2 linked regions of the Homo sapiens genome follow. The protein of the gene in region 2 purifies or fractionates together with the protein of the main gene of each other region. This does not show direct contact. Each region holds a gene or a part of one and is shown on either strand. Other genes may lie near its edges.

Evidence for each region. Proteins that work in one complex are often made in the same cells at the same time.
Region 1: the proteins of KCNQ2 (region 2) and GOLM1 purify together in Homo sapiens (affinity purification with mass spectrometry; 3 studies listed by BioGRID and IntAct, with this or other methods). This does not show direct contact.

The regions. Positions count from the first base shown.
Region 1 is NC_000009.12:86,079,059-86,082,558, forward strand, and holds part of GOLM1 (Golgi membrane protein 1), read right to left. Parts: intron 284-3,500; 5' UTR 263-283; coding exon 134-262; intron 1-133.
Region 2 is NC_000020.11:63,445,156-63,448,655, forward strand, and holds part of KCNQ2 (potassium voltage-gated channel subfamily KQT member 2), read right to left. Parts: intron 3,416-3,500; exon of another isoform or gene 3,286-3,415; intron 1,683-3,285; coding exon 1,592-1,682; intron 210-1,591; coding exon 83-209; intron 1-82.

The DNA.
Region 1 (3,500 bases), on a different chromosome or scaffold from region 2:
CTCACCTTACAAGCGTGTGCCCTGCACAAAACGCCCTGGCTGGCAATAAACAACAAACCCCTGGGACCCCATCATAACAAAATAAACAAAACATAAACATAAAATAAACATAACAATAAAGAAAACAAAACACCTGGAGGTCCACGCTCCGGGAGCTCGCAATCCAGTAGTTGAAGCCCAAGACGATGATGCAGGCCACCAGGGCGGCCAGCACGAGGGGCGGCGACTTCATGCTGCGACGCCCGTTTCCCAAGCCCATCATCTCAAAATCAGCGCTGAGAATCTGCCAAGTAAAAGCAAATAAATAAACATCAATACTAGTTTTATCATCTCCGAAGCAGACCGTATCATCCTTACAACCAAGAGGAAAGGAGTCTTGCCAAGAAGCGTGGGCTGGTAGCTTCTCCTTGACGTGCAAAGCTGTCAAGGGAGAAGAGTATGTGAACGGCACGCACAGAGCCCATGGTGCTGTGAACCCAGGGCAGTGTGGCCAGTTCCCAGGACAGGCTCGGAGGAGCAGGCACCGCCCCGAAACCTGCCACAGATTAGCTCGAGACCTGGGGCAAGACATGATTCCTCTTACACTTCAGATTCCTCCCTTGTAAAATCATTACCATACTCACCTTCCCGGCATAGTTTGAGAATTAATCATTTCTGTAAGCAGCAATGTTTGAGAAGTAATCATTTCTGTAAACACCAATAACAAATATTAAGTGCTTCCGCATCATATTAGAAAGAGTATATTCCTCATTACTCCTCAGAGAGAGCTTTTTGCTTTGATTCCTAACAAGGGAGGTTTTTTTTACCCTTGACAGGATTACTAATGACACCCAATTAAAGCATTTCTCAAGCAAAGCAGGAAACCCATTCTGGAGGTGAATGTGAACTCCCCCCCATGTACATCATTATTCAGGCACAGCCCTGGCTATAGAAGTGTCTCCTCCTTCATGACACACAACGGAAGTGGGAGGTGTGCCATCTGCCTGAAGTCACCAGGAAAAATGTGTTCCATCTTAGGATTTGAGGTGGAAACAAGGCATTCACTCCATGCCAAACGAGAGCACCTTCTTTCGAACATTCATTTCTCACTTTAGGGACCGTATCTGTGCAACTGCTGCATTGTACACCTCATGTTAGGAAAAACAGTGCCTCTGTGTGAGAGCTACAGAGTGCACAAAAATACAGCTTAGAAGAAAGATGCCATAAATTTTGTTAATGGGCTTCAATTCAAAGCCAGGTCTGCCTGGATGCAAGCACTGGTCTCTAGGAACAAGGAAAGTAGACTTTTCCAAATGGCTTTTCCCAAGCCAGATAAAACAGAACCTTATCAGAGTGAGCGTGGCTGCACTGCAACAAACAGCCTTTGAGCACAGAGAGCCTTTTACACCAGGGGTGTCTAGCAACAGAGGAGGAAAGGGGATGGTGGGCAAAAAAGACAAGGGACGGGTAAGGAAGAGGATACCACCAAGGATTCACCTGCAAAACCCAATTCTCACCAGTGAGAACATGGGAGAACTGATCCTCACCCTATGGTCTTTTCAGGTGGGTCACCAAAAGGCTTCTTTTTTCTTAACAGCTAGCTACTAGTATGGGGGCCTGCCAGGGGATAAAGAAGCAATCTAGCCGAATCATCTAAAATAAAGCACCCCCAGAATTCCCACGGGTGGAAATTCTGACCTGTGCTCATGTCTTACCAGCTTCTGGCCTCTCAGGATGAAAGGGGAAACCACGTTTTTCTTTCAATTATCAGCTGATATCAGCAAGCACTGAATATACTCAAGAGACTCTTGATCACAAGAGTCTCTTTTTTGACTCTTAAACTTTTTAAAATTTTTGTTTATTTATTTTAGAGACAGGGTCTCTGTCGCCCAGGGTGGAGTCAGTCACGCAATTGTGGCTCACTGAAGCCTCAAACTCTTGGGCTCAAATAATCCTCCTGCCCTCAACCTCTCAAGTAGCTGGGACTACAGACATGGGCCACCATGCCCAGCTAATTTTTTAAAACAATTTTTGTACAGACAGGGTCTCACTATTGCCTAGGTTGGCCTCAAATTCCTGACCTCAAGTGATCCTCCCATCTGGGCCCCTCAAAGTACTGGGATTACAGGTATGAGCCAGTGCACCCAGCCTCAATGATTTTTTTTTTTTTTTTTTTGAGACGGAGTTTCGCTCTTGTTTTCCAGGCTGGAGTGCAATGGTGTGATCTCAGCTCACTACAACCTCTGCCTCCCGGGTTAAAGCGATTCTCCTGCCTCAGCTTCCCGAGTAGCTGGGATTACAGGCATGCACCACCACGGCCAGCTAATTTTGTATTTTTAGTAGAGACGGGGTTTCTCCATGTTGGTCAGGCTGGTCTGGAACTCCCAACCTCAGGTGATCCGTCTGCCTCGTTCTCCCAAAGTGCTGGGAATATAGGCATGAGCCACCGTGCCCAGCTAACCTTGTTTTTAAAATATAAAAGTACAAATACAAGAGGGGGTGGCAGGGACTTTTCCAAATGGCTTTTGCTAAGGAAAAAATAGGAAACTACACACAGTAGAGTATAAATTGGTCGGGTGCAGTGGCTCATGCCTGTAATCCCAGCACTTTGGGAGGCCAAGGCAGGTAGATGGCCTGAAGTCAGGAATTTGAGACCAGCCTGGCCAACGTGGTGAAACTCCATCTCTACTAAAAATACAAAAGCAGCCAGGCATGGTGGCACATGCCTGTAGTCCCAGCTACTCAAGAGGCTGAGACAGGAGAAAAGCTTGAACCCATGAGGCGGAGCTTGCAGTGAGCCAAGATGACACCACTGCACTCCAGCCTGGGCGACAGAGCGAGACTCTGATTAAAAAAAAAAAAGAAAAAAGGATAAATTACATCCCCCTCATCCTACTCCAAAGGAAAGGGATAACATTTTCTAACATCTGGGTCCTTCTGTTCCAGTGGTCCTCAACACTCAAGGGGCATCAGCATCACCTGGGACACTTTTTTTTTTTTTTTTTTTTTGAGATGGAGTCTCTCTCTGTTGCCCAGGCTGGAGTGCAGTGGCGTGATCTAGGTTCACTGCAAGCTCCGCCTCCCAGGTTCATGCCATTCTCCTGCCTCAGCCTCCCGAGTAGCTGGGACTACAGGCACCTGCCACCACACCTGGCTAATTTTTTGTAGTTTTAGTAGAGACGAAGTTCCCCCATTAGCCAGGATGGTCTTGATCTCCTGACCTTGTGATCCGCCCGCCTCGGCCTCCCAAAGTGCTGGGATTACAGGCATGAGCCACCGTGCCCAGCCTGACACTTTTTAAAATATCAATACCTGGGCTCCACCACTGCATTTCTTTTCTTTCCTTTTTTTTTTTTCTTGAGACAGGGTCTCACTCTGTTGCTCAGGCTGACACACTCACTCTGTCACCCAGGCTGAAATAGCTGCCTAGTGGTGTGATCCCAGCCTCAACTCCTGGGCTCAAGTGATCCTCCCACCTCAGCTTCCCCAACTTCCTGGGCTCAAGTGATCCTCCCACTTCA
Region 2 (3,500 bases):
ACGCCCCAGCTCCCCCCAGGGCTGAGTCCGTCCCTGGGTGCCTGGCCCTGATTCTAGCAATACCACCCCCACCAGGCCTCACCAATCACACAGAACGGTTTCCGGGCAAACTTGAGCCGCCCCCTCCAGCCACGGTACCGGCAGCAGCAGCCTGCGGCCCAGATCCGCACGAAGTACTCCACGCCAAACACCACGATAGTCACGATTTCCTGCAGGGGAGGAAAGCTGAGGCCACCTTGAGGCCTGGGGGAGGGCCTGGGGGCCCAGCCTGGACACCCACAGGAGCAGTTCTGGCCCAGGGACCAAGCCACAGGGCAGGAGGCCCCCAAAGGAAACTGCAAGCTGACCCCCCCACCCCTCTCCAGCCTCTGGGCAGGAAGGGTTGGGCCCTCTGGAGACCCTGCATCCGGGAACACAGCTGAGCATGAACACCATGGGGCCACCCTCCCCACCTCCCTGTCTGAGCTGGGGACTCTATCTGGGCTAGGGGACCATGTCTGAGCTGGCAGGGCTGCCCTGTCTGAGCTAGGGGGTTCTATCTGGGCTAGGGAACCCTGTCTGAGCTGGGAGGCCCTGTCTGAGCTGGGAGGCCCTGTCTGAGCTGGGGGACCCTGTCTGAGCTGGGGGACCCTGTCTGAGCTGGGAGGCCCTGTCTGAGCTGGGGGACCCTGTCTGAGCTGGGAGGCCCTGTCTGAGCTGGGGGACCCTGTCTGAGCTGGGGGACCCTGTCTGAGCTGGGAGGCCCTGTCTGAGCTGGGGGACCCTGTCTGAGCTGGGGGACCCTGTCTGAGCTGGGAGGCCCTGTCTGAGCTGGGGGACCCTGTCTGAGCTGGGGGACCCTGTCTGAGCTGGGGGACCCTGTCTGAGCTGGTTGGGGAGCTGCCCTGTCCAAGCTGGGGGACTCTATCTGAGTTGGGGGCCCCTGTCTGAGCTGGGGGACCCTGTCTGAGCCAGTGGGGGACCTGCCTTGAGTTGGGGGGTGCACAGCAGGGCTGAGCTGAGGGAAGGCCCCAGGTAACTGCAAAGGGGGCCACAGTCTCCACCCAGACCTTGGGAAGCCCCAGAACAGAGGAGCAGGGCGGGCAGTAGAGGGAGGTGCATTTGGATGGGGACCAGTCTCCTTGAGGGCCCCCCACCCCGTTACCAACAGCAACACAGGAACTGCACTCCCGTTGCCATGGCGCCCACCCTGCCCTGGCACAGGGTTGCTGCAAGCGTCACAGCCCCCACCCCGACGCCCACGTCTGCCGTCTGCTGGGGACGCCCCACATCTCCGGCTCCAGAGATAAAGTGGGGATGGGAAAGGGAGGGTGGCCCACCCAGGGTGGGGGCGATGGAGGCGGGGCTGTCAGCCACTGTGAGGTCACCAGGAGGGGTGAGGTGAGGGCTGAGTTACAGCCAGGGTGGGGCTGGGGCATAGCCCGGGCTGTGGGGCTGGGGGCAGATGGGAACTGACAGGGCACAAAGACATGGCCAGAGCTGGGGCTGGGGGCGTCAGAGGCCCTGTAGTAACAGGAACGGAAGACAGACGCCCAGGCAGCTCCAGCTCCTTCCTGGGCACTTCCAGCCCCCGCCCTCCCTCGGGGCTCACCAGGATGTAGAGGGCCCCCTCCGAGCTCTTCTCATACTCCTTGATGGTGGAAAACACAGACAGCACGAGGCAGGAGAAAACCAGGAGGAACCTGGGGGCAGGGAACGCGCGCTCTCAGACAGGCCGCAGCAGGGCAGCAGCATGGCTGTGTCTCCAGAACTCAGGACCCCACTCCCCACCAGGCCGCAGCAGGGCACCAGCATGGCCGCGTCTCCAGAACGCAGGACCCCACTCCCCACCCACCCCACCAGAGCTCGCTCGGGCCAGAGGGCACCCCCATAGCCACCTCCCGGGACCCTGAACTCCACAGTGGCAGCTGCCCCCTCTATGCGCAGCTGCCCCCTCCAGGACGCACCCCCCTCTCCACTCTGGCCCCTGCCCCTTCTGTCTGGTTTCAGCCTGGCAGCCTCATCCTTTGGCAACGTCTCCAAAACTCTCAGTCAAATGGGAACAGCAAGGCCTGCCCATCAACTGCTACAAACACAGGAACAAGCAAAACCCCTGGGGCAGAAGGCACCGATCAGCCTTCCCCTCTCCTCACTCTCGGCCACCTCCTCCAGACCCCAACGCAGAGGGCTTCTCTCTGCCAGTTAAACCCGGAGCCAAGCAACAGGAGCTCCTCGGATCACCTTCTTTCCAGCCTCGTCCTGGCTGCCAGGAGGCTCCGTTTCTCCTTCCTCCCGGGTTGCAGGCACCTCCTCCCGCCAGTGACTTCCACCATGATTGCTCTTCCCATTCACGTCCCACGCGATTACCTCACTCACTGATCCTTCTTCAATTTCCCCTCAGATGCTCAAGTTCACACCCCACCAAAATTCCCCCAAATGCATGTGGGTATTTTTGTTTTTGTTTGTTTTGTTTTGTTTTGAGATACAGTTTCACTTGTCGCGCAGGCTGGAGTGCAATGGCGTGATCTTGGCTCGCTGCAACCTCCGCCTCCCGGGTTCAAGCAATTCTCCCGCCTCAGCCTCCAGAGTTGCTGGGATTACAGGCATGTGCCACCACACCAGGCTAATTTTTGTATTTTTTTAGTGGAGATGGGGTTTCATCACATTGGCCAGGCTAGTCTCGAACACCTGGGCTCAAGTGATGCTCCCGCCTCGGCCCCCCAAAGGGCTGGGATTACAGTCATGAGCTACCATGCTCGGCCCAAATGCGTGACTTTTTCTCAGCCCTGCATTCTCCTCTGATACAAGCGACTCTGCTACACTTGCTCCCTTGCCCACCCCAGGAAGCTGCAGACAGGAGGAGCCCGCTAGCCCCCGAAGACCCTGCCGCGGGAACCCGGCTTGTGGCTGCAACAAGGCCACCCACATAGAAGAGACATAGAAGATCTCCCAGCTCTTCCTGGGAGCAAAGCTGTGCAACCCAGAGCCTCAAGCTGCCGCTTTGGCAGGAAAGCCAACTCCCGCGTGCTGAAGTCACTGAATGCACACCAGAGAGAAACCCACTTCGCAGGAAGCAAATGCTTTGTCTCATTTACATTTTTCGCAGGTGTTCTGGGATGTGAAGGGGACGTGTCCAACGTCCAGGTCCTTCGTCACAGCCATAAAGGAGGCCATGCGTGGGACACGCCCTCATTCCAGGCAATGTGAGAGACGCCTTCACCTTGACCGTGTTGCTGCCTCTCGTTCCAACCGTGCTCAGAACCAGGAGCCGGCGGGGACGGAGCCACAGAGCAGCCGCTTCCCCGTGTCCGCGCCCCTGTACTGTCTTCACACTCGCCATCACCTTGCACACCCTGCGGCACCACACGACCGCCACGGAGCCTGTGGGGCCCTCCTGTGTCTCAAACCCGAGCCCTTCCCCGGCGCCCACATCCAGGTGGGTGTCAAGGGAGGGAGATTCCCCACACTCAGGATCTCCTTCCCTCTGTCCCCAAAGCAGTGCTGCAGTCCAGCCTGGGTTC